4 linked regions of the Homo sapiens genome follow. The protein of the gene in region 1 purifies or fractionates together with the protein of each later gene. This does not show direct contact. Each region holds a gene or a part of one and is shown on either strand. Other genes may lie near its edges. The genes, in order: METTL2A, NDUFAF7, MCCC1 and ID4.

Region 1 (7,782 bases):
TGCTGAAATATGGTATAGCAAGAGGGTACTCACCCATCCATTCATTCATCAATTATCTACTGAGTTGCATACTGTTTGCCAGACCTAGTTCTAGGACCTGGACATATAACAGTTAACAAACAAGTAAAATGACTTAACCTCACAGAGCTTAGTGATGGAGCTAATTATAACCATTGACTCAGCAATTCCTCTCCTAGAAATTAATCATAAAGAAATAATCATGAATGTACAAAATTATTTCATTACAAAGATGTACACCATGTTGAATTTTTTTCTGTTTTTTTTTCTTTCTTTTTTTTTTTGAGACAGAGTCTCACTCTGTCACCCAGGCTGGAGTGCAGTGGCGTGATCTCAGCTCACTGCAACCTCCGCCTCTAGGGTTCAAGCCATTCTTCTGCCTCACCCTCCCGAGTACCTGGGACTACAGGTGCGTACCACCATACCTGGCTAATTTTTGTATTTTTAGTAGAGACGGGGTTTCATCATGCTGACCAGGATGGTCTTGAACTCCTGACGTCGTGATCCACCTGCCTCGGCCTCCCAAAGTGCTGGGATTACAGGTGTGAGCCACTGCACCCAGCCGTTAAATTTTTAATAGTATGAAACTTAAAGTGACCTAAATGTCCAATAAAGCATGATATAGCTATACGAAACAATACCAGAAGGACATTAAGTGATGTTGTAAAAGAATATTTCGAACAAAAGAATAATGTCCCCAAGTTATTATTAAGTTAAAAAGCAGACTACAACTGCTAAGTGGCATGGGAGAACTTCAAGGCGTTGTTCTAAAACTAGATTGTGACACTGATTACACAAATACAGATTTTTATGAAAATGTATTGAACTGTACACTTAAAATGGATGAATGTAATTGGGTTTTCTTGTTGTTGTTGTTGTTGTTGTTTGAGACGGAGTCTTGCTCTGTTGCCAGGCTGGCCTGCAGTGGCACGATCTCAGCCCACTGCAACCTCCGCCTCCTGAGTTCAAGCGATTCTCCTGTCTCAGCCTCCCGAGTAGCTGGGATTACAGGCACCCACCACTGTGCCCGGCTAATTTTATTTATTTATTATTTATTTATTTATTATTTATTTTTTTTGTGTGTGAGAAGGAGTCTCGCTCTGTCGCCCAAGCTGAAGTGCAGTGACACAATCTCGGCTCACTACAACCTCCAACACCCAGGTTCAAGTGATTCTCCTGCCTCAGCCTCCTAAGTAGCTGGGACTACAGGCGTGTACCACCACCCCTGGCTAATTTTTTGTATTTTAGTAGAGATGGGGTTTCACCATGTTGGCCAGGATGGTCTCGATCTCCTGACCTCGTGATCCGCCCACCTCGGCCTCCCAAAGTGCTGGGATTACAGACGTGAGCCACCACACCCAGCCTAATTTTTGTATTTTTAGTAGAGACGGGGGTTTCACCATCTTGGTCTGGCTGGTCTCAAACTCCTGACCTCGTGATCCACCCACCTTGGTCTCCCAAAGTGCTGGGATTACAGGTGTGAGCCACTGCGCCCAGCCAGATGAATGTAATTGTTTAAAAAAAAAAGCACAAAGCATTTTGTTCTGAAACTATTTTAATGTAAAGTCACTTACATAACTAAATTAGAAAGAAAGAACTGGGATGATATAAGCCAAAGCGTTAATGAGTCAAATTAATGGTGGGAAGAAGTATTTTCTTTTGTTTTATCGATATCTTCTAAATGTTCTATAATAAAAAATCTATTTTGCAATAAGAAAACACAGGCCAGGTGCAGTGGCTCATGTCTGTAATCCCAGCACTTGGGGGAGGCCGAGGCAGACGGATTGCTCAAGACCAGGAGTTCGAGGCCAGCCTGGGCATCATGGCAAAACACTGTCTCCACAAAAAATGCAAAAATTATTGGGGTATGGTGGCACAAACCTCTAGTCCCAGCTTCTCTGTTGGCTGATGTGGGAGAATCACTTGAGCCTGGGAGGCAGAGGTTGCAGTGAGCTGTGATCGTGCCACTGTACTCCAGCCTGCGTGACAGAGTGATGCCCTATCTCAAAGAAAAAAAGGAGAAGAAAGGCCGGGTGCGGTGGCTAACGCCTGTAATCCCAGCACTTTGGGAGGCTGAGGCAGACGGATCATTTGAGGTCAGGAGTTCAATATCAGCCTGGCCAACATTGTGAAACCCGTCTCTACTAAAATGCAAAAATTAGCTGGGTGTGGTGGCGATGGCCTGTAATCTCAGCTACTCAGGAGGCTGAAGCAGGAGACTGGCTTGAGCCCGGGAGGTGGAGCTTGCAGTGAACCGAGATCATGCCACTGCACTCCAGCCTGGGCGACAGAGCTTCGTCTCAAAAAAAAAACAAAAAACAAAAAAACACAATTAACTACCCTTGTCCTTGGCTAACAACCTAAAGCAATAATCCAGAATGAGAGTTTTTAACCTTTACAAGCGTTAAACCCATGCCACCCACTGAGCTAGAAGAGTTCTCCTTACTTACCACCAGAGGGACCCTTAGTTCCTCTGAAACGTGGCGTTTCTGAAGCTACAATCCAGTATAAAGTCTGACACCAGAGAACTCACAGCCATGTCAAACTTATGAAAAATTATTTTAGGTGCTTCGAAAAATAGGTTTTACAGGCCAATCAAATATAATTGTATAAAATTAAGTTTAGGCCAGGGGCGGTGGCTCACTCCTGTAATCCCAGCACTTTGGGAGGCCGAGGTGGGTGGATCATGAGGTCAGGAGATCGAGACCATCCTGGCTAACACGGTGAAACCCTGTCTCTACTAAAAACACAAAAAATTAGCCGGGCATGGTGGCGGGCGCCTGTAGTCCCAGCTACTCGGGAGGCTGAGGCAGGAGAATGGCGTGAACCCGTGAAATAGGGAGCTTGCAGTGAGCCGAGATCACGCCACTACACTCCAGCCTGGTAGACAGTGCGAGACTCCGTCTCAAAAATAAATAAATAAAAATAAAAAATAAAGTTAAGTTTAGGATACTTTAGCACATTTCACAGAAAAAAGGCCAAAGCTGTTTGACATTTAAAATGTCTCCACTGGAACTAATATAGTAAATTAGAGTGAAGACAATGAGCTGTCTGCAAGAAAATATGCAGTGGGACTGTTGATTGGGAACACTAACAGCTTTTAGTGAGGGGAGAATAAAAGCCCATAGATGAGAAAACAAGATGCCAGAAATAAATGTAAATCAACCACCATATCTGCAAACAGCTGGCCTTGAGAAAAGATAAAAATTCCTTGTACTTGTTTCTGGGTATGGAGCTTGTGTTCAAAATGTTTCCGAAGACCACAAGAATGGCAAAAGCATATTGTCTTCAAATGAAGTACAACTTATTTACTATTTTTTTTATTAACTTGTGTATTTTTCTTCCTGATTAGAGAGGCTTAGAGCTTGTTCCCATTTCTTTGGAGGAAAAAGTATAGAATCATTCATTGCTCCCCGTAGTTTTACCTACAGAAAGAATTTACAATGGAATAAACAATTACTGGCTGGGCGCGGTGGCTCACGCCTGTAATCCCAACACTTTGGGAGACCGAGGCGGGCAGATCATTTGAGGTCAGGAGTTTGGGACCAGCCCAGGCAACATGGTGAAACCCCATCTCTACTAAAAATACAAAAATTAGCTGAGTGTGGTAGCGCGCACCTGTAATCCCGGCTACTCAGGAGGCTGAGGCAGGAGAACCACCTGAGCCCAGAACATGGAGGTTATAACGAGCTGAGATCCGGCTACTGCACTCTAGCCTGGGAAACAGAGCAAGACTCCGTCTCAAAAAAAAAAAAAAGTACTAATTACCCATGTGCTATGTCTAGCACTGCACTAACCCTTTCCTTTTTTAAAAAAATTCATCTTTCCCTTTATTCTGACATTATGACATTAAATAAAGTCCAAGAGGTATTGGGCTGGTCCTTGTTTGGTCTCTGCCCTTTCCTTCTTTTCCAAGTGGTATTCATCATGCTTCTCTTGGAAGTCTTCTCAAATAACCTTATGTCTATAACATACTTTCTTCTAGATTCTTTTGAGAGTCTATTTGTGTTAGATCTAGAAATAGAAATGTAAGGCTGAAATGTATTACTATGACAAACTGTTTGTATGTGTGTATTACAATCTTAATTGTGCTAATAAGGATAATTATAATAAATATGCATGATTCAAAAAGGTTAGATGGTTATAATTTAAAAAAAAATTGTCCTTGGATATTCCATTTGATTTGCTAAGCCTCGTGTTCTCTAATTTCATATCTCCATCTCCCCCTACCCCAACCAAAATATATATACACACTGTGTATACATATACACCCACACTATTAAGAGCTGAATATAGAAGCTGGAAATTGCCCTGTTTCTTCCCGCTGCTTGCTACCTTCTTCAGTTCTGGACATCGGCTCCGCAGTGGAACTAGGTAGCCTCAACTCTTATAATGATTCAAGATTTTTCCTGTTTTATAACTTGAGGGAAGCTGGGGAACCTGTTAAGAGGATCCCAGCATTGAACTGGGTCTCAAGTGGAATGTCTCCCACTTTCTGCCTAACCTGCACGTCCATCAGCACCTCATCAATGAGAAACGACTCCTCCGGGGAGAATTTCCCCCTGCCTGGTCCCCTCTCCTAGAGAGCCCTTCGCCAACCCTGGGACAGCCCCAAACGACAGCTCCCGAGCGCCACCCGGACCAGACTCCAGTGCCGCCCTGTCCCGCCACCCTTTTTCCCGCCCAGACTCCGCGTCTTCTGAAAGAGGGCGTGGTCCGCAGGAAGTTCTCACGTTACGGAAAGTAAAGTGTTTCCGGCTCCGGTGTCATGGCCGGCTCCTACCCTGAAGGTGCACCTGCAGTCCTCGCCGATAAGAGGCAGCAGTTCGGAAGCCGGTTCCTGAGAGATCCGGCGCGCGTCTTCCACCACAATGCCTGGTAATCACTCTGCCCCTTCGCCCGGCCTGTCGCTGACCCTCTGTCCCGCCGCCTCGGAGCACTCCGAAAAGCCCCTGACCGCCGGCCACGAGTCAAGCTGCCCTACCCGAGGCACTCTCCAAGGGGAGAGAAACTCCTAGGCCAGCGACTCACCCTGCCCGCAGCCAGGACGTGAGGCCCCTAAGCTGCCCGTTTGATTTTCTCAGGGACAATGTGGAGTGGTCGGAAGAGCAAGCCGCGGCGGCGGAGAGAAAAGTCCAGGAGAACAGTATCCAGCGGGTGTGCCAGGAGAAACAAGGTGCGCTTAAATGGGCTCTCATTGGTATCAACAGCCAGCGTACTGCCGAACGCGCCCTCCCGGAGAGGCCAGGGAACCGCGGCCGCCCAGATCCTTTATTCCTGGCCTGATGCAGATCTCAGGAGTAGAGCGGGACAGGGAGGGGATGAGCAAGGAGAGAAAAGGGCTGCATTGTAACAAAATCTTAAGTCGTAGAGGGTTTTTTTATATATAGTTTTACTTTGGAGGAGGGTAATGTTGTCTTTAATTATGTTTAGTAGATCCACGTTGATATGGCTAGCCAATGACAACTGTGTGGTCACGCGATCATCTTAGAACCTGTACTTTTTACTTGATTTGCATTTTCCATGAGGAGATGTTTTCCATTGAAGCTTCATTGAAGTGATTAGATTCTAAATATTGTTGGGAGGGGGGCTAGTGACTGGTGACTGTGTGTCTATTACTTGTGTGATGGTTATGAGAATTTAGGGCTTTAGTCAAGGAAAGGTGGATGCAGCAGAGTGGAGATAAGTCTGGCCAAAGAAAAGGAGGCCCCTGCTTGAGAGGTGGATGATTTCACTGCAAAATATCCCTAGATAGTAAAACTAGGACTGATTGTTCCAGACAATTGAAGATAGGACTACAAATTTAGTACCCGCTGAAAGAGTTCTGTACAACAAAAAGATTCCAGTTACAAAACATTCACCCTGCATATTTTGACAGCAACTAGATCAAAGCAAGTTAATAGTTGAAAGGGATTTTGAAAATCATGTGGTTCAATATTCTCTTTTTATAGTTAAAGACACTTGGACCACAGGACATTAAGTGCTTTTCCCAGAGGTAAGCAGTCAGTAGTAGCAGTAGTGGAACTAAAATCCTGTTTCTTAGGGAGTCTTGGTTGATTCAGCAGGTGAGTTGTGAGTTGTTAACACACTTCTTAGTGGATTCCAACTTCCATTGTCACTGTCCTGCTCAATTTGTTAGGTTTTTATTCTTTCTACTACACTAGTCAAGGCCCCCTGAATTGGCAAGAGCAGTAAACTGAAATCTGGGACTGTCATGATCACCTTAAAAACAGCCTTCATTTAAACTGTCCATACTTTTTTTTTTTTTTTGGAGATGGAGTCTCGCTCTGTCACCAGGCTGGAGTGCAGTGGCACGATCTCAGCTCGCTGCAATCTCCTCCTCCCTGGTTCAAGCGATTCCCCTGCCTCAGCCTCCCTAGTAGCTGGGACTACAGGTGTGCACCACCACGCCTGGCTAATTTTTTGTATTTTAGTACAGACGGGGTTTCACCGTGCTGGCCAGGATGGTCTCGATCTCCTGACCTCGTGATCCGCCCACCTCAGCCTCCCAAAGTGCTGGGATTACAGGCATGAGCCACTGCACCTGGCTACTTCTAGGATTTTTTAATAGTTAAAAGTCATCTGGCTGGGCGCGATGACTCATGCCTGTAATCCCAGCACTTTGGGAGGCCGAGGCGGGTGGATCACGAGGTCAGGAGATCGAGACCATCCTGGCTAACACGGTGAAACCCCGTCTGTACTAAAAAATACAAAAAATTAGCCGGGCGTGGTGGCAGGCGCCTGTAGTCCCAGCTACTCAGTAGGATGAGGCAGGAGAATGGCATGAACCCGGGAGGTGGAGCTTGCAGTGAGCCAAGATTGCGCCCCTGCACTCCAGCCTGGGTGACAGAGCGAGACTCTGTCTCAAAAAAAAAAAAAAAGGCATCCAAAGATGTAGGAGGACACTTGATAGATAGTAAGTTCTCTGGTTGATTGTTCAAACAGAATTTAGACTCTCCTATAATGACGGATAGGGGCATTAGGGTATAATGCCAGATGGCAGGACTAAATGACCTCAGAAATGCCTTCAGTTCTGGGACTGTGGCTCTACCTGAGGATACTTTTAGTATTAAAGTGACATTTGGTAAAGCAGGATAATTGATATTAGATATAAATAAAACATTTGAGAGCTGGTTCTTAAAATTTTTTCTTAAATATTTACAGTTGATTATGAGATCAATGCCCACAAATACTGGAATGACTTCTACAAAATCCACGAAAATGGGTTTTTCAAGGATAGACATTGGCTTTTTACCGAATTCCCTGAGCTGGCACCTAGCCAAAATCAAAATCATTTGAAGGACTGGTTCTTGGAGAACAAGAGTGAAGTACCTGAATGTAGAAACAATGAGGATGGACCTGGTTTAATAATGGAAGAACAGCACAAGTGTTCTTCAAAGAGCCTTGAACATAAAACACAGACACTTCCTGTGGAGGAGAATGTAACTCAGAAAATTAGTGACCTGGAAATTTGTGCTGATGAGTTTCCTGGATCCTCAGCCACCTACCGAATACTGGAGGTAACCTTTTATTGTCTTGGTAGTGGGATATGTGAAGCTATTATATTTGTGCACATGAGGTAGCATAGAGAGGCTGACAACAAAAGTAACTTCTATTGGATGATGCTGACTAGACTTGACCCTTATATTAGCCTGGAATCACCTCCATTTTTGAACTGATAAAATGCCCTCAATGCAGACCAGATATCTGGTAGTCATGACGGACAAAGATCACACGAGAATAGCATGTCACTTCCAAAAATTG
Region 2 (7,000 bases), on another chromosome or scaffold:
CAGGCATGAGCCACCACGCCCAGCCGCATGTTTACTTTTTAAAATAAAATAGAAATATGGCAACTAGCTTTGTAAGTTAAAGGAAACTCAGTTTCACAATAACTTATTAGCTTGAGCACACATTTGCACCAAAGCCAGTCACAACCCTAAAAGTTCTATAATGTTGGTTGTATTATATACAACATGGACTGTTCTTGCTGTGAAAAGATAAAATACTTTGACTTTTGTTACCTGCAGTATATGAAATGTGTTTCCTTTATTTTGATTTCTTGGGCCGACTGAAGGGTAAAATGTCCAAGCTGAAATATCACTGCCAAGCAAGTTCACTAAACCCAGCTACAACGGATGCAAAGGGTTTTGACTGACGTGCATTCCTCTGATATCTTCCACCTTGAAGTCTCTGATGAGGTAGCAAGGCAAAAAAGTTAAATCTCTCTCCCATCTTCTTTGGATTCATTAACATATCATATCCTTGAAGTAACTGCTGCCTCACTGATGGCTCATTTGATTTATCTAAAAGAACCTGAAAAGAAAAAAATTCTTAGCAAAAATAACCAGAAGACAGGATTCCTAGTTACATGCAGCAATACTAATGACTCTCAAATATTCCAATAAAACAGCACTCAAAATGTGACTTCTGATTACCTGCCTGAGAATCATAGAGTACTTATTAAAAATGTAGATTGGTGTGAAACAAACCTAAGGATTTGCATTTTTAACAAATATCCTCAGGGGGTTTGATCTACAGTAAGGTTTAGGTGTTCTCAGAAGAACAGTTAGAAAATTCATACCCATAAACGCAGTTTTCTTAACAAACAAAAACACTATTTGGAAGTCTTAATGCTACCTCCCATGGAGATGCATAAAACTTACCAGACTAGTTACTAAATCCTATACTACCTGAAAAGACTGGAATACCAAGGATTGGCTAACTACAAGAGCATTAAGGCCAGGTGAACATACTATTTAAAGTAATTTTTGAAATACTATGAAAGTACTTAATAACAGTGAAATAAAATAAACCTTACCTTCAGCCGGACATCAATACCCATATTTTTTAAAAATGTGTGTTGTTTTATTGGGCCCAGAGAGGCTACTTTTCCCTGTGCCATTCTTCGCAAATAACTGAAGTCCACATCAGCTGTTAGATCTGCTGTTCCTGGGGCAATTAAGACATCATGAAGCTTGTGGTCGCAAAACCCCTTGAACATAAAGAAATCAGATTTTTGCCCTTTTATGGTTATTAAGATTAAAGAAATGCTATCATATTAAAGTTATTTAATATTTACATTAATGCTTGAGGTGACGGAATAGAGCTCTCATTAATTCTCTAGGCAGGGAACACCTAGGCAGTGTTTTACAAAGTATATGCATCAACCATGCATCAGAATCACCTGAGATACACTACAAACTACTACACAGCCATAAAAAAAAATGAAATCACGTCCTTTTCAGCAACGTAGACATAGCTGGAGGCCATTATCCTAAGTGAATTAATGCAGGGACAAAACCAAATACCACATGTACATCTCACTTAGAGCTAAACACTGGGTACACGTGAACATACTTATGGGAACAAACACTGGTGACTACTAGAGGGGAGACAGGAGGAGGGGAACAAGGGCTGAAAATCTATCTACTGAGTACTATGCTTGCCACCTGGGTGACAGGCTCACTCGTACCCCAAACCTCAGAGTCAATGCAATATACCCATGTAACAAATAACAAACCTGCCTCATGTACCCCCTAAATCTAAAATAAAAGTTGAAATTACTTAAAAAAAAATCACCTGAGAATATATTACTGACCCTAACCAGACCTGGTCAGTCAGAATCCTGGAGGTAAGGCTAGAGAATGAGTATTTTCAACAAACTATCCAGGTTATTTTTAGATAAAGTTAGAAATTAAGAACCACAGACCTAGAAAATGACTAAGAGCATTTAGTTAAATGTTTTTCAATTAAAGTATATTGAATAGAATTGATTATATTCAAAGATCATTAAGAAAGGATGTTTAGGAACAGTGTAAAAGAATACATCTGGAAAGGGAAAAAATGTTGAAAATATGATAGAAAAAGCTAGAATGATTACAGTAGGTAGTTTAAATCTGTAAAGAAGTACCAAAATTTTTCTTGAATGAAGGGGGTTACAGATAGGTTTAAGAATGTGAAGAAAATCTTTCCATTTGTATTATTCAGCTGCTTATCTGGATTTATATAAACATAGGTTCTACAACTAAGGAAGAATGTACACAATTCAGATCCTGTTAAAGGAGGGCTGGACAGTAGACTCAGTGTTAGCAGTAAGAACTAGGGTTAAGGGGAATTACAATAACATGAATTAATGTTAACTATAAAATAATGTAATACAACAATACCAGGCACTGTAGAAATCAAAGCTCTTCAATGGGCTTCAGATCTAACACTGAAATTCTGATAAATCATGTTACTGAATTATACATACTCTGAAGGTATCTGTCTTTGTTCCATCATGACCATAATCAGCAACCAGTGCAGCACCTCCAGTTAATGCAATGCGTTGAGAAAGTTCCTCGATGATAACACCAGCATCAGGACACACTTCAACATGATCCCTTGTTTCGTCATGCTAGTAAAGGGATCATTGCAAGAGTCAAAATGCATCATTCAAAAGAATGACTTCCTTACGGTTTTTCAGGTTTTTCCTCAATGAGCATTTCTTAGTTTTAATAAAAATAAATTCTTAATATGAGTATGTTCTCTACACTCAACTTTTCACCTGACTCCCTTTTTATTATACAAAACTCCTTAGTTCTTTGATGCTATCCCACTTGATATACAAAGACATTTTAATCTCTTTTATAAAAAGGCAAATGCCCTCCCAATCCCCCCAGATGGCCTAGAGCATTATCATTTAATGTAAAATTACTTTTGTATCACAAATCATATAAACACATTCCTCTAGGTTGAAAGCATGGGAAAGGGATTTTTTTTGTCTGCCTAGAACAGTGCCAGGCACATAACAGTCAATGAAAATATTGTGCTGAAAGAACAAATGGTATAAATCCAATAACACGAAGCAGACCCTATTAGACAATTATATTATCATGCCCTCTGTTGTGCCAGAAAGTATCCCAATGATATGCCCTACATCAAGAAACGCTGGCTTATAAACTAGTGCCAATGTATTGAAACCGTTATTACCCCAAGATGTCCACTTAACTAAGGGGCCACAATAAGTGTGTACTAGCTTAAAAAGCAAAATCACACTAAGTATTAACACTTGTCAACCTGACTAGTATATATGAAATTTCACTACTTCCTGATCTGATTGAAAATGTGGTATTTCTTTCCCTTCATTATGAAAACATACATTAACTTGTACTCCTTCCTAACACCTTATTATAGAAATGCAGTAATGACCTGCCCTGATGTCTGCCTATGGTAACAGGCATAGAGTCAGATGAAGTTAAATCTCAGCTCTTCCTATGCTTACTGGTAGACAAGTTACTTAAACTTTCTGAGTTGTTTTCTTCCTTATAGATATTGTAGGTTTATTGTGAGGATTAAATATAACTAACCATTTAGCTAATAGTGCAATCAAATTACTGTGGCTTAACTATAAAAACCATGAAGTCAGCCTCATCAGGCATCAGTGGACACGCTGATCATGCTGACATTCTATCTTAGGCTACTCTTCAAGATGACATGTATTACCACGCATCTCATTCAAGTGAAAGAGAATATTCGCTCCCTCCCTTCCTAAGTGAATACTAATTAGGTCAAGAACTAAATGAACTCCCAGGGCCAGGAGGTTAGTTCTTGGTAGTTCTATGAATATGTCATTCAGGTAAACTTAGATTGCTATACTATGAAAAAACAGGTGTTCATAAGTGTTCAGTCTGACATTTAAATTTATACTTAACAAAACTTAATTCATACATTTAAGTTTAAAAGCTCTTGTGCTTTTAAAACTGATAATTTCTAAGTAAGAAGTTCTCAGTTAAGGTCCAGAAAGTAAAAATCATCTTCTGAGCTGGAAAAAAAGGATTAAAAAAAAAGAGGCAGTCTGAAGCCTGGACGTTCCTGAGAAGTACAGGGATTTTTTTGTACCTTTAAACAAGCCACAATAGACAGGCTCTTGCAATGATTCCTTGAGATCAACAGAAAGCAGTAGTAATTCTACCATTCTGGCCGAATCAAACTGAGATCTGTGTGGAAGCATGGGATAAAAGCCATGCTGTAGCCCAAAGAAGGATAATAATAGAACCTACCTAATATAGTTGCTTTGAGAATTAAATGAGAAAACAGAGTAACACAAAGTACTCAACAAACGTTAGCTGTTATTGTTAATTTACTATAGTCTGTACTACATTGCTTTCACAGATGTAAACTCTTCCTGTGGACAATACCATTACCATTTGACATGAAACTGAGATAAGCAGTGAAAGTAAGAGACTTGGCTGAGTAAGCGGTTACTTACTTTCTCTTACTACATGACGTTAAGGTCACACACTTAAGAAATGATTTTAACCCATGCTCCTGCCTCTAGCTCCTCTGCACTTTCACTGTCAATAAAAAGCACCTCGTATGCTACTAGCAACTCTTCCTGTAAAGGAACTCTAAAACTCTAAAGTAGTAACTCAGAAAATAAGACTTTGAAGATTCTGTGAGCAATAAAAGAAACTTAAAAAAGCATATTCTTACTTGTATGAAGGCTTCTGCTGGGGTGGCAGAAGGTGCCAAAACAAACCTCAGTTTATCAGAAACCTGTGGATCAATGTCAACAAATACTTCTCGCCATCCCTGTGGTGTTTTCTAAACACAAAATAACACATAAAAACAAATTTTTGCAAGTTTGTTCTCTACATTGCTTCTACCAAAAATAGCTTTTTCTCCTCTTACCATAAGTAACTAACATTTACAGAGAACTTACTATTTAAAATTACTTAAATTCATTACTTCATTGCCTTTGAACAATGAGTAGACCAATCGATGCAAAAGAAACAATAACAGAGATGACGCTGTGGAAGATAAAATCAGCAGCATGGAAAGTACCCCAAAAACGGAAATAGACTCAGGAAGAACAGCCAGAAGCTTTACTAACAAATTACTACAGGATCATGAGAGCTGCTCTTCTCCTCACAAATTACCAGTACATATACATTATCACCAAATCTTAAATCTCCTCACAGAAAGAATGAAGAAAAGTTTTATTATTTTTTTTTTGAGACAAGCTCTCGCTTTGTTGCCCAGGCTGGAGTGCAGTGGTGCAATCTCAGCTCACTGCAACCTCTGCCTCCTGGGTTCAAGTGATTCTCATGCCTCAGCCTCCCTAGTAGCTGGGAAGTACAGGCACGTGCCACCAAGCCCAGATAATTTTTCTATTTTTAGTAGACACAGGGTTTTGTCATGTTGGCCAGGCTGGTCTTGAACTCCTGACCTCAAGTGATTCACCCACCTCGCCCTCCCAAAGTGCTGAGATTACAGGTGTAAGCCACCATGCCTGGCCCAAAAAAGTTTAATCTATAATTTTTTAAAATGTGCTAAGGTTGGCTGGGTGCAGTGGCGCACACCTGTAGTCCCAGCTCCTTGGGATGCTGAGGCAGGATGAACACTTGAGCCCTGGAGTTCAAGACCAGCCTGGGCAACATAGCAATACCCTATCTCTTAAAAAAGAAAATTTTTTTTTTGCTTAAGTAAATCCTTCATTGCACCACAGCCAGTTACCATCTTACCATTTTTCATTCCCTTACTTCTTCAAATCAGAAGAATTAAGAATTCTTAATAATTATCCCAGGAGAACTAACAATTCTCATTAATATTTCATTTTTTGCTTTTGAATTATTTGTGTACCAAAATTCCAAATAATAGTTAAAAATAACCTCAACAAGTAAAATTTGTATACTGAATAAATACCATAAACATTGGCAACACAATGCCTTTTGTATTCAATTATAGACATGACTTTTTTCCCCCCTCAATACCTGAAATTTATGCACAGGAAGAACATCAAAAAATTCATGTGCAAGATAAAAGCTGTACCCTATTTAAAAAGAGGAAAACAATTAATGTTTCCACATTTCACAGGAATTAATTCTTTTGAATATTAACTGTAAAAAAAATGCCTACTTCCTCCATAATCATCACTACCACAGAATTATCTACCTCTTCATGGAAAACTTACACTGCAGAACATAGAACAATTATTACTATTCTTATTTTACACATAAATGGGGTCAGAAAATGGAAATACCTGAAATAGCAGTTAAAGCTTTTATTCATCACAAGGCTTGAAAGAAATTAGAAGTCAGAGTTGTTAGCTGGAAGGGAATTTGATTTCATAAAATCGGGCTTCTCAGCCTGAGAAGGCTGAGGCAGGAATGGCTTGAGATCCCTTACCCAAGATCGTACCCCCACTTTGGCTTTGAGTCAAGACTCAAACTAGTCAATACTAGTCAGTATTCCTGACTAGTACAGGGATTTTCCCCCACACCTTGCTTGTCTTTAGGCAAGTAAGGATTTTTTAAAAGACTCTATAACTGAACTAAACCCACCTACTAACACTGCTTCCATCAGCCCCAGCTGCCTTGGGCTGCTCCGTCATCGGTACAACCCTAGCTATAGGGAAATACTCAAAAGTACAAAGGAGATTTACATTTTGTTTGGGATTTTACAAAGCTTCATGAAATAAACTACTACTTAATGTCAGGCAACTTTATTTTCTATTAAGATGCTCTTTTCTAGAAAAAAGTAGGCTACTCTCTATGGATAAGGGACTTGGCAGCAGTAACTCAATCTATTATATTGCTGTAAAAAGTTACAGTCCCATCAATACTGTGAGGGTTGTGATCAAAATTCTTTCATTAATCCACATAAAGGTAATTACCTTTTGGAACATCGTGCAGATCTCGGTACCAGGAAATTGGAATCCCAGACTTAGTGACACCTTTCATATACACTGGGGATCCAGCATTTCGCTCTAACGGGACCTTCTCTTTAGTCAGTGTCAATGCTTGAATC
Region 3 (7,031 bases), on another chromosome or scaffold:
TAATGCACACGCTGTGCTTTTATCTTGTGCTTTGTGAATAATCTAAAATGGTTAGTTAGTCCTTTATAACCACATCTTCCAGGTATAGACAAAAAGATAGGTGGAATTGCTTCTGTAATTTGTTTGTTTCCCTGCATATGCTTTTTATTTATTTATTTATTTTTTTTTTTGAGATGGAGTCTCACTCTGTCACCCAGGCTGGAATGTAGTGGCACGATCTTGGCTCACTGCAACCTCCACCTCCCAAGTTCAAGTGATACTCCTGCCTCAGCCTCCCAAGTAGCTGAGATTACAGGTGCGCACCACCACACCTGGCTAATTTTTGTATTGTTAGTAGAGATGGGGTTTCACCATGTTGGCCAGGCTGGTCTCGAACTCCTGACCTCAGGTAATCCCCCCACCTCAGCCTCTCAAATTGCTAGGATTACAGGCGTGAGCCACTGCACCCAGCCCACTTATCCTCTTTAGCTGAAACTTAATAGACGTTATACTTTTTTGTTCCTAAAGTGAATCTGGCCTGTTTTCTGTCAGCTCTTGGTTACTTTATTTTATACACAGGTATCACGAAACTTAAAAATTGTTGAGACTTCTACCTCATTAAAATACCTCAAGTCATTTTGTCTCCCCATTTCTCCATTTTTTTAAATACAAGGACTTGGAATAGAATTGTATAGTACTTTTAAATCTGAGAGGTACCTTCAAGATCACCTCTTATAGTCTCATCTCGTGTGTGAGAACACTGAAGCCCAAGCTATTAAATCTTGCATCCTCAACTGGGATGATACCACCGCTAAAGGGTGGAAATTGATTCTTAGGAGAGCCAGGAAATCTTAGATTTTGTCATGGTTTACGGCTTTCCAAAGCTCAACCTTACCCCACCCTTCCTACAAGGAATAAAATCTTTTAAAAGTTTTCTCATTAGGAGAGTAATAATGAAAAAAAAGTTGGAGAAACACTGATGTAAAGTGACTCGACCCTGGGCAAGCTGGTCATTGGAGGGACTCGGATGAGAATGCAGCTTTTCTGGTCCCACAGCCAACATTCTTTCTGTTGCCCCTGTTTAACTTCCGTTTATTTCTCTGGTCTTACTTTTTAAACATGTCTCATGTTTAAACTTGATTGGTATTTTTCAAACTGTAGATTGACCAGCATATTTTAATAAAATAGGATACAACTGAAAGAACCAAAAGAGTTTTGTTCTTTTTGTTTTTGTTTTTTTTTTTGAGACGGAGTCTCGCTCTGTCACCCAGGCTGGAGTGCAGTGGCCCAGTCTCGGCTCACTGCAAGCTCTGCCTCCTGGGTTCACGCCATTCTCCTGCCTCAGCCTCCCGAGTAGCTGGGACTACAGGTGCCCGCCATGACGCCCGGCTAATTTTTTGTGTTTTCAGTAGAGACAGGGTTTCACCGTGTTAGCCAGGATGGCCTCAATCTCCTGACCTCATGATCTGCTTGCCTCGGCTTCCCAAAGTGCTGGGATTACAGGTGTGAGCCACCGTGCCTGGCCAGGGCAGAATGAGTCATTTTTAACAAAACATCTGTTTTCATTAAGTGTGTGTCCTGGGTAGTTTGTATTGTGAGTTGTAGCCAAAAAGGTTTCAAAAAAGCTAAACTAGATGATGTTGGTATACCTTGGTTGTTTAATCATCTCTGACTGTGGTCTTATGCCAGCCTCAGGAACAAGCAGGCTAGGTGACTCATTCAAGGACAGGTAGTACGAGGGAAAACAGCCAGAACTCTAACTCTTGAGTTCTAGATTAGTTTTCTACCCACTAAGAAAGTCTTACTAAAGCACTGTTAGTTGGCTTAAGGTTTCATGTTTTAAGAAACTGAAATTCTTTTGAAAGAACAATTGTGTTGCCTATTCTGTTTAATTGTAATTCCTTTTGGATTTATGTTATAGGACATGGGTGTGGAGGCAAAGAACCATGAAGTACACAACAGCCACAGGTACTGACAGACTTTGTTGTTCTATTTGATTTTGCTTCAGACTGGAAGTGTTTAAGAAAGGGAAATGTTTAATCCCTTAATATATGCATAATAGAATTAGTTATCATAAATTTTGGATTTTCACGATAATTTTCTAGGAAGTGTTAAGTCATGGTTTTCACCTCTTTTGTATCAAATCTCTCTTGCTGTTAAGTCTAAAATACAGAGGGCAGCCGGGCGCAGTGGCTCATGCCTGTATCCCAGCACTTTGGGAGGCTGAGGTGGGTGGATCACCTGAGGTCAGGAGTTCGAGACCAGCCTGGACAACATGGCAAAACCCTGTGTCTACTAAAAAATACAAAAATTAGCTGGGCGTGGTGGCGGGTGCCTGTAATCCCAGATGCTTGGGAGGCTGAGGCAGGAGAATTGCTTGAACCCAGGAGGCGCAGGTTGCAATGAGCCAAGATCTCGCCACTGCACTCCAGCCTGGGCGACAGAGCAAGACTTCGTCTCAAAAAAAAAAAAAAAAAAGTAAAAATAAATAAATAAAATACAGAGGGCAATAATGGAGAACATTTTATATTCGTTTGTTCTTTCTGTCCATTTGACCCTCTTAGTGTATTGGATTGGAAAATCATAACTACGATGGTCTAAAGCAGTTCTTTGAAAAAGCTATTTTAAGTAGCAAAACCTTTTTTTCCAAATAAAATTTAACATGGAATTCCCAACTATGAAACATATAAAAGTGTAATAAAGTATAACTTCTAGCTGATTGGATATAGCCCTCTACCTACTGTGCTCTCCTTCCCCTGCCCACACTCATACATATGTCATCCATCAGCCCCTGTGACAACTCTTGGGCTCCATAGAGCCCCATCGAAAAACACTTTTAAATTAGGTGCAACCTTTTTTTTTTTAAAAGGAGAAATAACTTTATTATGTTGAGCCTATGGATTCTATTGAAGAAATAACTTTATTATGAACTGTCAAAGAACATTTATTTCACGTGTGATATTAGAAGTACATTTTATATATGCAGTAGCTTGTCATTATGGTGCCATGCCAGTAGACTGGTACAAGAGTCACTTGTGTTGCAAGAGAACCACACACACCTATGTACATAGGGATAGAGGCAGAGGAGCAGAGTGACTGAAAGCTTAAATTCTGGAGTGACGCAGATCTAGGTTGAAGTCCCAGATTGTTTCTTTAGCTGTGTAATTTTGGGAAAATAATAGCTCTTTCAGCATTAGTTTCTTCATCTTTAAAATTGAGATAACAATGATAGTATCTATTTCATTAGGATTATTGTGAAAATTTAAGTCGATGTTGAGTCTTTAGCACAGGACCTGAGGCACAGAAAGTGCTTATTAAAGATTAGTTAGTATTGGCCGGGTGTGGTGGCTCACACCTGTAATCCCAGCACTTCGGGAGGCCAAGGCAGGTGGATCACCTGAGGTCAGGAGTTCGAGACCAGCCTGGCCAATGTGGTGAAACCCCGTCTCTACTAAAAATACAAAAATTAGCCAGGCGTGGTGGCAGGCACCTGTAATTTCAGCTACTCAGGAGGCTGAAGCAGTAGAATTGCTTGACCCTGGGAGGTAGAGGTTGTAGTGAGCCGAGATCACACCATTGCACTCCAACCTGGGGGACGAGAGCAAAACACTGTCTCAAAAATAAATAAATAAGTAAATAAATAAATACATAAAAGAGTAGTTATTAATGATGATAATTTAACACTATTATAATTTGATCCTTGGCATAACAAAGCATCTTTTAATTTTATTTTATGTTGCTTTGTATTTTAAGTTTAAAAAGCTGAGTAATTTATGTTAATGAGTACCTTGAATTTAAGAGAAAAGAAGTGCACTGTCTAATATTAGTTAAAGTGGTCATTTTGGGCTCAGTTATGCTAGTTTTACCAAAAACCTTGAACTTATCAGTCGAGTCCTTATCAGCCAGTTAAGATCGTATTCTCATTCTCATTCTTTGCTCTCCAGTAACATTTCTGTGTGATTTTCATGGTGTTTTAAACAGGAAGAAACATTACCAAGGTCCTCATTGCAAACAGAGGAGAAATTGCCTGCAGGGTGATGCGCACAGCCAAAAAACTGGGTGTACAGACTGTGGCGGTTTATAGTGAGGCTGACAGAAATTCCATGCATGTAGATATGGTATGTGTTAAAAATTGGAAGCCACGTCTTACGTTTATTCGTTTACTGTGTCAGTATTTTCGTTCTTTATGATGACAGTTGATATTTGCTAGTGTTATCAGGGTTGAAGTAGGTAAGTTCAAACTGCTCACTGCTAATTCTTGGGAACATTTTTCAGATATAACATCAGTTGAACTAAGCGGTGTGCTTAGTAGAACAGTTGATTTACAGGCAAGGTCTTTATCTCCTTGAGGATTGGTTAAAACGGTTCACAGAATGTTGCGGATCCACTGACTACACTTTGAGTAGCTCATGTCCAGATTCCGTATATACAAGGAGAAAGATCCAGGCTCTATTCTTTTTTTTTCTTTTTTTTTTGAGATTGAGTCTCGCTCTGTTGCCCAGGCTGGAGAGCAGTGGCACAATCCCGACTCACTGCAAGCTCCGCCTCTCAGGTTCAAGCGATTCTCCTGCCTCGATTCTCCTGCCTCGACGTCTAGAGTAGCTGGAACTATAGGTGCCCTCCACCACGACCGGCTAATTTTTTGTATTTTTAGTAGAGACAGGTTTTCACCGTGTTAGCCAGGATGGTCTCAATCTGCTGACCTCGTGATCCGCCCACCTTGGCCTCCCAAAGTGCCAAACAGGCGTGAGCCACCGTGCCTAGCCAATCCAGGCTCTATTCTTAGCACCTGCTACTTACTGGCTGAGTGATCTTAGCCAAGTCACTTCATGTTTCTGAGCCTTGCTTCATCTGTAAAATTATAACTAATAAGACCCAACTCCCTGAAGTTTGTGAATGTTACGGGTGAGTTATTACTAGTTTTTTTTGTTTTGTTTTGTTTTGTTTTGTTTTTGTTTTTGACAAGAGTCTCACTCTGTTGCCCAGGCTGGAGTGTAGTGGCGTGTTCTTGGCTCACTGCAACCTCCACCTTCCAGGTTCAAGTGATTCTCATGCCTCAGCCTCCTGAGTAGCTGGATTACAGACACACACCACCACGCCTGGCTACTTTTTTGTATTTTTAGTAGAGACAGGATTTCACCATGTTGGCCAAAATGGTCTCGAACTCCTGGCCTCAAGTGATCCACCCACCTTGGCCTCCCAAAGTGCTGGGATTACAGGCGTGAGCCACTGCGCCCAGCCTATCACTAGCTTTTATCCACCAGAAATAACTCCAAGCATAGGTGACTCCCACTGTTGGACTTCATTATGCCTGCAGTAAGACTCCAAGCACTAGCATCAATTCATGATGAGCAGCCTCACCTGGGCTTTTATCACTGTACAGCAGGCCCTTGTGGCTCTCTAGCCACTGTTTTTCTCACTCTGTGCAATGAGTATTTCAAACTTGTTTCGCTTCATTCCAACCTCCAATTCTCCCTCTACCCACCTTTTTGCAGCAGGATGATCTTGATTTCACAGAGAAAATAAAATTGAGGTTCCTGCCACAGAATCTGCTGACTTAGTTATGTCTGCATCCATCTTTCCCATCGAAGGTCAGTGCTCTGGATCCCTTCTCTTCTTGTCTTTTTAAGAATTTTCCCGGCTGGGCGCAGTGGCTCACACCTGTAATTCCAGCACTTTGGGAAGCCGAGGCAGATGAATCACCTGAGGTCAGGGTTCGAGACCAGCCTGACCAACATGGAGAAATCCCGTCTCTATTAAAAATACAAAATTAGCTGGGCGTGGTGTCACATGCCTGTAATCCCAGCTACTCGGGAGGCTGAGGCAGGAGAATCGCTTGAACCCGGGAGGCGGAGGTTGCAGTGAGCTGAGATCGTGCCATTGCACTCCAGCCTGGGCAACAAGAGCGAAACTCTGTCTCAAAGAAAAAAAAAAAAAGAATTTTCCCAAAATAAGAGAGTAAATTTTAAATGTCTTACCATGAAAAAATATTAGGTAAGTGAGATGATGCCTAGGTTAATTGGCTTGATTCAATCATTCCACATTGTGTGCATGTGGCAAAACATCACATTGTACCCCATAAATGCATACAATTATGATTTGTCAGTTAACAGTATTAATAAAACATAAAGCAAAATGAGACATTCCTGTGTCAAAAAGAAAAGGATCTTCTATTTTTCAATGATGGGTCTTCAACCACTCTCTACTAGACTGATACTATCCATGTCCCTAAATCCAGTGGAGTCTCCAGGGCTGAGCTGACTTGACCCCTCAGCAGCATTTAGCATCCTAGTACACTGCTCCCTTCTTTTAGAAATAAATTCTTCTCATGGCATTCTCAGCCTCTTGCCTTCTTGTCTTCTCTCAGTGTCCTTTATCTGGACCCTACCCATCTACCAGACCCTACCCATCTACCAGACCCTTATGTTGAAGTTTCTTGGGACTTGGTCCTTGGCCCTCTTTTCTCAGTGTGCACTCTCATTCTGGATCATTTTATATACTCCTATAGCTTTGAGAAAAACTCCCAAATTTCTATTTTTAGTCCAGACTTTCTTTTGAGCATGATACATATATATCCAACTGCCCATTCAACATCTCCACTTCAATATTGTCACAGGTACCAAACTAGTGTGACTGAAATTGAACTCATGACCTTTCACCTATACTGAACCTGCATTTCTTACAGAATTCCCTAACCCCGTAGAGTACAACACCATTGCTAATAAAAACAATAATGTCAGAGATCTAGAAGTCTTTGAGCATTTTTCTCTCTTCTTTCCTACTCTAGATCCTTCCCCCCTCATCTAGTAAATGACCAAGTACTGTTAATTGTATTTCCCAAACATTTCTTTCCACTTCTTTCCACCCCCTCCCACCTATAACTTAACTCAAAGCCACAGTCACCTTTTTTTTTGAGCCAGGGTCTCACTCTGTCAGCTAGGCTGGAGTGCAGTGGCACAGTCACAGCTCACTGCAGCCTCAACCCCCCAGGCTCAAGCAATCCTCCTACCTCAGCCTCCTGAGTAGCTGGGACTACAGGCACTTGCTACCAT
Region 4 (7,304 bases), on another chromosome or scaffold:
GATCCAATATCAAAAATATGAGCCATAAAGGAACAAACTGATAAACTAGACACCAACAAAATTTAGGGTGGGCATGGTGGCTCACACCTGTAATCCCAGCACTTTGGGAGGCCAAGGTGGGCAGATCACCTGAGGTCAGGAGTTCAAGACCAGACTGAACAACATGGTGAAACACCATATCTACTAAAAATACATAACTAGCCAGGTGTGGTGGTGGGCGCCTGTAATCCCAGCTACTTGGGAGGCTGAGGCAGGAGAATTGCTTGAACCTGGAAGGCGGAGGTTGCAGTGAGACAAGATCATGCTATTGCACTCCAGCCTGGGCAACAAGAGTGAAATTCTGTCTCAAAAAAAAAAAAAATCAAAACTTCTGCTCTAAAAGAAGATTGTGAAGTAAATGAAAAGTCAGTCCACAGACTGAGAGATATTTGCCAAAAATGGTAATACATTGTAACATGGTTTGCCCACTTATGTGCCAACCACTGTTCTAAGAACTTTACTGAATTTCTTTTACAGAGACCATATATATAATATGTGTATCTCATAAACACCTTATGAAGTAAATGCAATTTTAATCATTCCAAATATGAAAGGTATAGGAATTTAAGAACCCAGCTGAATGATATAAAACTAATAAGCAAAGAGGCCAAAATTGGGGCTTAGGCTGTCTCACTTCAGAGTCCATGCTGTTTATATCTCCTAAGGTAAAAACAAATTCCACTTATTTCTCCCCATTTTTCTGTCTTTTAATCTAAGGGGGGCTTTCAAAAAGTCACTTCTTATTTAAACCAACTACCTTTAAAACTCCCCAAACAAGGCATTTTTGACAGCCACATCTGCCCAGCCATGTTCAACGTACAACGTCCTCTTCCTACAAGCCTTTTCCAGGACCTAGCAAACTAAGGGGTTATCAGCATTTCCGGGACTAGTATCAGCAATCCAAGGGTAGCACAAGTAATTTTGTAACACTTAGTGCCTGATAAAGCAGCCTTGAGCTTGAATTGCCACATTGCCCAACTTACTCTTTGGGAGCAAGGGACAGTCCTGCTGCAGAGTACATAGTGGTTTCTTATGCCCTCAAAGAATGCATGTGCCTCTTTCTGTGACGACAAATCTACAGAGTGACCAAGGCATTGGAACATTCACGTTTATCTGTGTATGAGTACACTCACTGTTTCCCTGGAGGCTATGGAGAAACAAGTATCAAGTCCTAAAAAGGCACTGGGAATGAAGAGCACAATATGCTTCCATACCCTTGCTTCATGTAAACACAGGGTGACTATGACTTCTAAAGGCCTGGGTGTTGCAGTTCAGTGAGGGCCTGATTTAGTAGCTAGAATACATCTCAGGGAGGACAGCAGACCTCTTTGTCTGGAGGAAGGGTGTATCCATGACTCTGGTCATCACGGCTTTCTAGCAATTCTCCTATGAATGTTTCATTCTAGGTTCCTACTGAGGTATATTTTGGGAGTCTCGAGCATTTCCATGACAAAAGGATTTGGGTTAGCCCATTTTACTTTTACAAGTGCAAGTGAAACACTTTGATGTAAAAGAGTCACCAACAGACTAAGTTACCTTCTCTGCACAGTAGAAATAACATAGCTTGTAAGGTTTATCCAAAATCTGAGTGATAATTGGGTAAACTGTTTTGAATTATCAGTGCCAGGAATCTTCCATGATTGCAGCTTTGATGTCATGTAAGTGTCTATGTCTAAGAATACAAAAACATACATTGCATAGCCCCTAGTACTCTCTGGTTTCATGGACCAAAACGTGCAGGATTGTATTCCTTATTCCCATAGTATATGGTAGCACTTTAATTTTTTAATGTCTTCATGCCTTCCAACCTTCAAAACAAGGAGCACAGTAACTGCCTCTGCCTACTCTGCTAGCAGGATTTACGGATCACATCTTTCCTGGGTATTCTTGATCTTGTGGCTGAGGTACATTCCTTTGAAACCACCTCTTCCACCCCACCCCACACAGAGTAACTCAGTCTTTCTAACTTTAAGCCAGTCACACAGAGCATCTCCAACAAAACCTGAAACTTAGGCATTTGGCGCTTGTCACACCCAAGGCATGGCTTTCTGAGATTTAGCAAATTCCAAAAAGGTCGATATGATTCTTCCTTTGTGTTACGTATTCAAAACTTAAATTTTAATTTTAATCGTTAGGATATGTAAAATGTTTAAATGTAAGTGTGTCCTGGGCATATTAGCATAGTTTTATTTTGCCAAACAGAGGAAAGTCTTGGGTTTTGAATTTGGAAGCAAATTTTAAACTCTAGGAAAGAGAAAGATCAATGGAACAAAACATCTGTACATATATCCATTTATTATTATCGTCTGTGCTCATATGACTGGCTCCAAGATAATAGCTTACAACCAGTAGTGCTGGCTTCACCGACTTCCCATTTAAAATTACAACATTTTCTCTGTATTTGCATTAATTTAATGATGTATATGACTATGCCTGTCTTTAGAAGAAAGCCCTTCTGAGTTTCATAATTCTGATTTTCTCGATTAATGTGTATGTAGACCATCTACGTATGCACATAAATAAATGAGAATGGCACTTGTTTCCAAACAATTATTAGAAGCAGTAACATACAAGGATTAGGGGAGAGGAGGGTTATTGCATCTACCTGTGAAACCAGAATTAAATAGTTGCTCCTCATTTCATCAGGAGAAAGGAATGTGCTCTGGGGAATAGTGCGATAGTCATAAAGCACTGACATAGCTAAACAAAATATCTGCCTGGTGCAGGTATTTCAGTTCTGGGAATGGATGTAGAAAAAGTCCATATAGGGGTAGACAGGAAGAAATGAGGTCCATGTCTCTTTCTTTCAATTATCTATGAAAATGAAGACACCAATCCATGTCATGTACACGAATGAAGAAAATTCTTGGGTTAATTCATCTCCAAGCGTGTCTAAAGGTGGGAGGGTTTGTAGAGTGAAGGCACTCAAAATTCATTTCCCCATTGTCTGAGAATTTTTATGCACCTTTCTCATCTGAAGGGCTCAATTTTTTCTTGAAGGGTACACACAATGCTCCACCAAAGCTCATTGTGCAATTTTATTTTGAACCCTTGAAGGACAGCTTTTCTCTAAGAAATCTAACACAAAAACGCCCTTAATTAACAGGCTTTTTTTTGCAGGGTGGGGCCCAAGCGGGATCCCAGAGACTGGAAGTGTGAATTTTAATGCTTTGCTGTCAAAGGAGGCGACTCTGGACATTCTCATCACCTTATTTAAAGCGGGGTACGCTGACTAATACGTGAAGCTGTGCATTAATGGCCTAAATTAAGTTACAGGTATGAATTTTACATAAAACAGATTAATATTATATGTCATAATGGAATTTTAAATATTCCGTGTCCATGCATTTTTAATCTTTACGTGCTCTAATTGAATGCGCAAGGCAACTGCATTTCTTGAGCCCACTTTTGCATTTAGATGGGGTAAAAGAACCCCCCCCACGTTTTTGTTTTATTTATATTCCCTTCACCAAAAACCTGCATTCGATTCGGCATTCTTTTCCTTCTTTTTTTTTCTACTTTTGCTAAGCTTTAGCATTTTTTAAAAAGAAAACGGAAAGGCTACACATTCCATTCCATCATTATGGTTTCGGCAAATGTGAAAAGGCGAATAATGAAACGGAGGAGGGAAATATAGAACAGAATGAACGTGCCTTCTTGAACAGCGCGTCTTTCTTAAGGCACTGGAATCCCACGGATGGAGTGATGGGTGGCGGAGGGTCCCTGGGCGCCGTGCTATTAGGAGTGGCAGGGTATCCGCGAGCAGGGCCCAGGCGCTCCCTCAGCAGCCTAGTCGGGATAAGGGGGGCGGTGGAGAGTGAATTCCGGCCGCACATTCCCGCAGTTCTTCGCAGGAACTTCGCTCTCTCTTTTCCCCTCCCTTGGGCACACATCAGCCTGGCCCGACTCCCACTCAGCTCTCTTTTCTCAGAACCCCGACCCACAGCGTTGACGGAATGGAGTGCCCTTCCCATTGGCCCGAGCGTCATTCCCCGAGGTGGCACTGCCCGCCTGATTGGCTGGCCACTCCAGACCCCCCGCCCACTCCTCCACTCGGGTAGCCGGACTCCCCGCCCCCCAGCACCGCCCGGAGCCCCCGCCCTCGCCTCTCCCTCCGCGCCCCCGCCCGCGCGCCCAGCGGGCTCCGCTCGGCTCGCGCTGCGACCCGGCCCGCGCGCTGGTCCCGCCCCCGGGGCGCACGGCTCTATAAATACAGCTGCGCGGCGGGCCGGGCGAGAGCGTAGTGGAGGAGGCGCGGTTGTGAGTAGTACCGGGAGTGGGGTGATCCCGGGCTAGGGGAGCGCGGCGGCCGCGATCGGGCTTAGTCGGAGCTCCGAAGGGAGTGACTAGGACACCCGGGTGGGCTACTTTTCTTCCGGTGCTTTTGCTTTTTTTTTCCTTTGGGCTCGGGCTGAGTGTCGCCCACTGAGCAAAGATTCCCTCGTAAAACCCAGAGCGACCCTCCCGTCAATTGTTGGGCTCGGGAGTGTCGCGGTGCCCCGAGCGCGCCGGGCGCGGAGGCAAAGGGAGCGGAGCCGGCCGCGGACGGGGCCCGGAGCTTGCCTGCCTCCCTCGCTCGCCCCAGCGGGTTCGCTCGCGTAGAGCGCAGGGCGCGCGCGATGAAGGCGGTGAGCCCGGTGCGCCCCTCGGGCCGCAAGGCGCCGTCGGGCTGCGGCGGCGGGGAGCTGGCGCTGCGCTGCCTGGCCGAGCACGGCCACAGCCTGGGTGGCTCCGCAGCCGCGGCGGCGGCGGCGGCGGCAGCGCGCTGTAAGGCGGCCGAGGCGGCGGCCGACGAGCCGGCGCTGTGCCTGCAGTGCGATATGAACGACTGCTATAGCCGCCTGCGGAGGCTGGTGCCCACCATCCCGCCCAACAAGAAAGTCAGCAAAGTGGAGATCCTGCAGCACGTTATCGACTACATCCTGGACCTGCAGCTGGCGCTGGAGACGCACCCGGCCCTGCTGAGGCAGCCACCACCGCCCGCGCCGCCACACCACCCGGCCGGGACCTGTCCAGCCGCGCCGCCGCGGACCCCGCTCACTGCGCTCAACACCGACCCGGTGAGAGGCCGGGCGCCGGCCGTGGGCGGACGCCGCGGGGGATGGGAGGTTGGTGGCGTGGTGGCGGGACGCGGGCGCTCACCGTCCTCCGGGCAGGGGCGGGCCAGGAATGACAGCCCCCTCCCCCTGCTCCTCCGGGCTCCCCCGGGCCGCCAGCAGCCGGCCGGGCTCGGCGAGCGCGGGTCCGGGAGAACGCGCAGGGCGGGACTCGGGGCTGTGGGCGCCCTGGGCTGTCAAGTCCCGCCTGAGCCCGGAGGGGCCCCCCCGGCTACAGGCTGGGGTGGGGGCGTCGGCGCGCCAGCCTGATTTCCGAGGACAATCCAGGACCGTGTCGAGCGCGTTGTTTGCGCCTGCTAACCTTTCCCTTGGTGTTCGGTTGCTGTTCCAGGCCGGCGCGGTGAACAAGCAGGGCGACAGCATTCTGTGCCGCTGAGCCGCGCTGTCCAGGTGAGCGCGCATTTCCCGTCTCGGGTGGCCGGTCACCAGAGACGCCCGTCCCCGAGGGCTTCCGGGGCCAGGCACCGCGGTGTTCTTTGCCCCCAGCGTTTCTGAGAGCAAACTCCCAAGGAAGTAAATCCCCTCTCTCCCTGCCACCTAAGTAGCAAGTAAACCCGTACTTAGCCTTAGAACTCGAGGTTCAGTCTCGGTGGAGACGGGTCAGCCCTTGTCCCCGCCGTCCCCGTGTTTTTTCTGGTGGTCAGCGGGCTCTTCTGCCTTCCCTAGTTCCCGAGGGAGGGCACCCTCGTGGGCATGGGAGCTGCCCCGGTGTCCTCCCGTGCAGTCTGTCACCCACAAAGGGGGACGCGGGCAGGGCGCCGGAGTGGGTCCCCTCTCCGGGCTTCCCGAGGGCCGCAGCTGCCTGCTCGGCGCCTGGCCCGGCCGCGGGCGGGTGTTGTCTGACCTGGTGGTTTGTTTTGGGTTGTTGATCAAGCATGTCTTGAGTTTGGTCGGTGGCGCCAGTTAGTCTGCAGCGAGAAGGTTCACACACCCCCTCTATTCATTCCTCTTCCACAGGTGTGCGGCCGCCTGAGCCCGAGCCAGGAGCACTAGAGAGGGAGGGGGAAGAGCAGAAGTTAGAGAAAAAAAGCCACCGGAGGAAAGGAAAAAACATCGGCCAACCTAGAAACGTTTTCATTCGTCATTCCAAGAGAGAGAGAGGAAAGAAAAATACAACTTTCATTCTTTCTTTGCACGTTCATAAACATTCTACATACGTATTCTCTTTTGTCTCTTCATTTATAACTGCTGTGAATTGTACATTTCTGTGTTTTTTGGAGGTGCAGTTAAACTTTTAAGCTTAAGTGTGACAGGACTGATAAATAGAAGATCAAGAGTAGATCCGACTTTAGAAGCCTACTTTGTGACCAAGGAGCTCAATTTTTGTTTTGAAGCTTTACTAATCTACCAGAGCATTGTAGATATTTTTTTTTTACATCTATTGTTTAAAATAGATGATTATAACGGGGCAGAGAACTTTCTTTTCTCTGCAAGAATGTTACATATTGTATAGATAAATGAGTGACATTTCATACCATGTATATATAGAGATGTTCTATAAGTGTGAGAAAGTATATGCTTTAATAGATACTGTAATTATAAGATATTTTTAATTAAATATTTTTTTGTAAATATTATGTGTGTGTTTTTTTTTAATCTATGGGAATATTTCTTTTGGAAAATCATTTTTCAGCTCAATTACAGAGCTCTTGATATCTTGAATGTCTTTTCTGTTTGGCCTGGCTCTTAATTTGCTTTTGTTTTGCCCAGTATAGACTCGGAAGTAACAGTTATAGCTAGTGGTCTTGCATGATTGCATGAGATGTTTAATCACAAATTAAACTTGTTCTGAGTCCATTCAAATGTGTTTTTTTAAATGTAGATTGAAATCTTTGTATTTGAAGCATACATGTTGAAAATACACCTTATCAGTTTTTAAGTACAGGGTTTTATAGTGTAATATATACAGAGTAAGTGTTTGTTTTTGTTTTTCAACTGAGGTCAAAATGGATTCTGAATGATTTTGCATATGGGATGAGGAAATGCTTGGATCCTTAAGGAGTTTACGAAATCTGCTGTTTTATCAAAGTGAAAAAAAATTGCTTATTACTCTTCATTTTACACTAAAGCTTAATGTCACTAAGTTTCATGTCTGTACAGATTATTTAAATCATGGAAATGAAAAAAATGTTCTCTGCTTGCTACCAA

The links.
Region 2: the proteins of METTL2A (region 1) and NDUFAF7 purify together in Homo sapiens (affinity purification with mass spectrometry; 2 studies listed by BioGRID and IntAct, with this or other methods). This does not show direct contact.
Region 3: the proteins of METTL2A (region 1) and MCCC1 purify together in Homo sapiens (affinity purification with mass spectrometry; 2 studies listed by BioGRID and IntAct, with this or other methods). This does not show direct contact.
Region 4: the proteins of METTL2A (region 1) and ID4 purify together in Homo sapiens (affinity purification with mass spectrometry; 2 studies listed by BioGRID and IntAct, with this or other methods). This does not show direct contact.

What each region holds. Positions count from the first base shown.
Region 1 is NC_000017.11:62,419,117-62,426,898, forward strand, and holds the start of METTL2A (tRNA N(3)-cytidine methyltransferase METTL2A), read left to right. Parts: upstream 1-4,780; 5' UTR 4,781-4,786; coding exon 4,787-4,896; intron 4,897-5,102; coding exon 5,103-5,194; intron 5,195-7,182; coding exon 7,183-7,538; intron 7,539-7,782.
Region 2 is NC_000002.12:37,241,658-37,248,657, reverse strand, and holds part of NDUFAF7 (protein arginine methyltransferase NDUFAF7, mitochondrial), read right to left. Parts: coding exon 6,867-7,000; exon of another isoform or gene 6,234-6,866; intron 6,024-6,233; coding exon 5,965-6,023; intron 4,796-5,964; coding exon 4,685-4,795; intron 2,607-4,684; coding exon 2,463-2,606; intron 1,203-2,462; coding exon 1,029-1,202; intron 524-1,028; coding exon 308-523; 3' UTR 1-307. UniProt on the Homo sapiens protein: Arginine methyltransferase involved in the assembly or stability of mitochondrial NADH:ubiquinone oxidoreductase complex (complex I).
Region 3 is NC_000003.12:183,089,475-183,096,505, reverse strand, and holds part of MCCC1 (methylcrotonoyl-CoA carboxylase subunit alpha, mitochondrial isoform 1 precursor), read left to right. Parts: intron 1-1,897; exon of another isoform or gene 1,898-1,900; coding exon 1,901-1,947; intron 1,948-3,960; coding exon 3,961-4,097; intron 4,098-5,548; exon of another isoform or gene 5,549-5,570; intron 5,571-7,031.
Region 4 is NC_000006.12:19,833,097-19,840,400, forward strand, and holds the start of ID4 (DNA-binding protein inhibitor ID-4), read left to right. Parts: upstream 1-4,273; 5' UTR 4,274-4,658; coding exon 4,659-5,099; intron 5,100-5,487; coding exon 5,488-5,532; 3' UTR 5,533-5,546; intron 5,547-6,113; 3' UTR 6,114-7,304. UniProt on the Homo sapiens protein: Transcriptional regulator (lacking a basic DNA binding domain) which negatively regulates the basic helix-loop-helix (bHLH) transcription factors by forming heterodimers and inhibiting their DNA binding and transcriptional activity.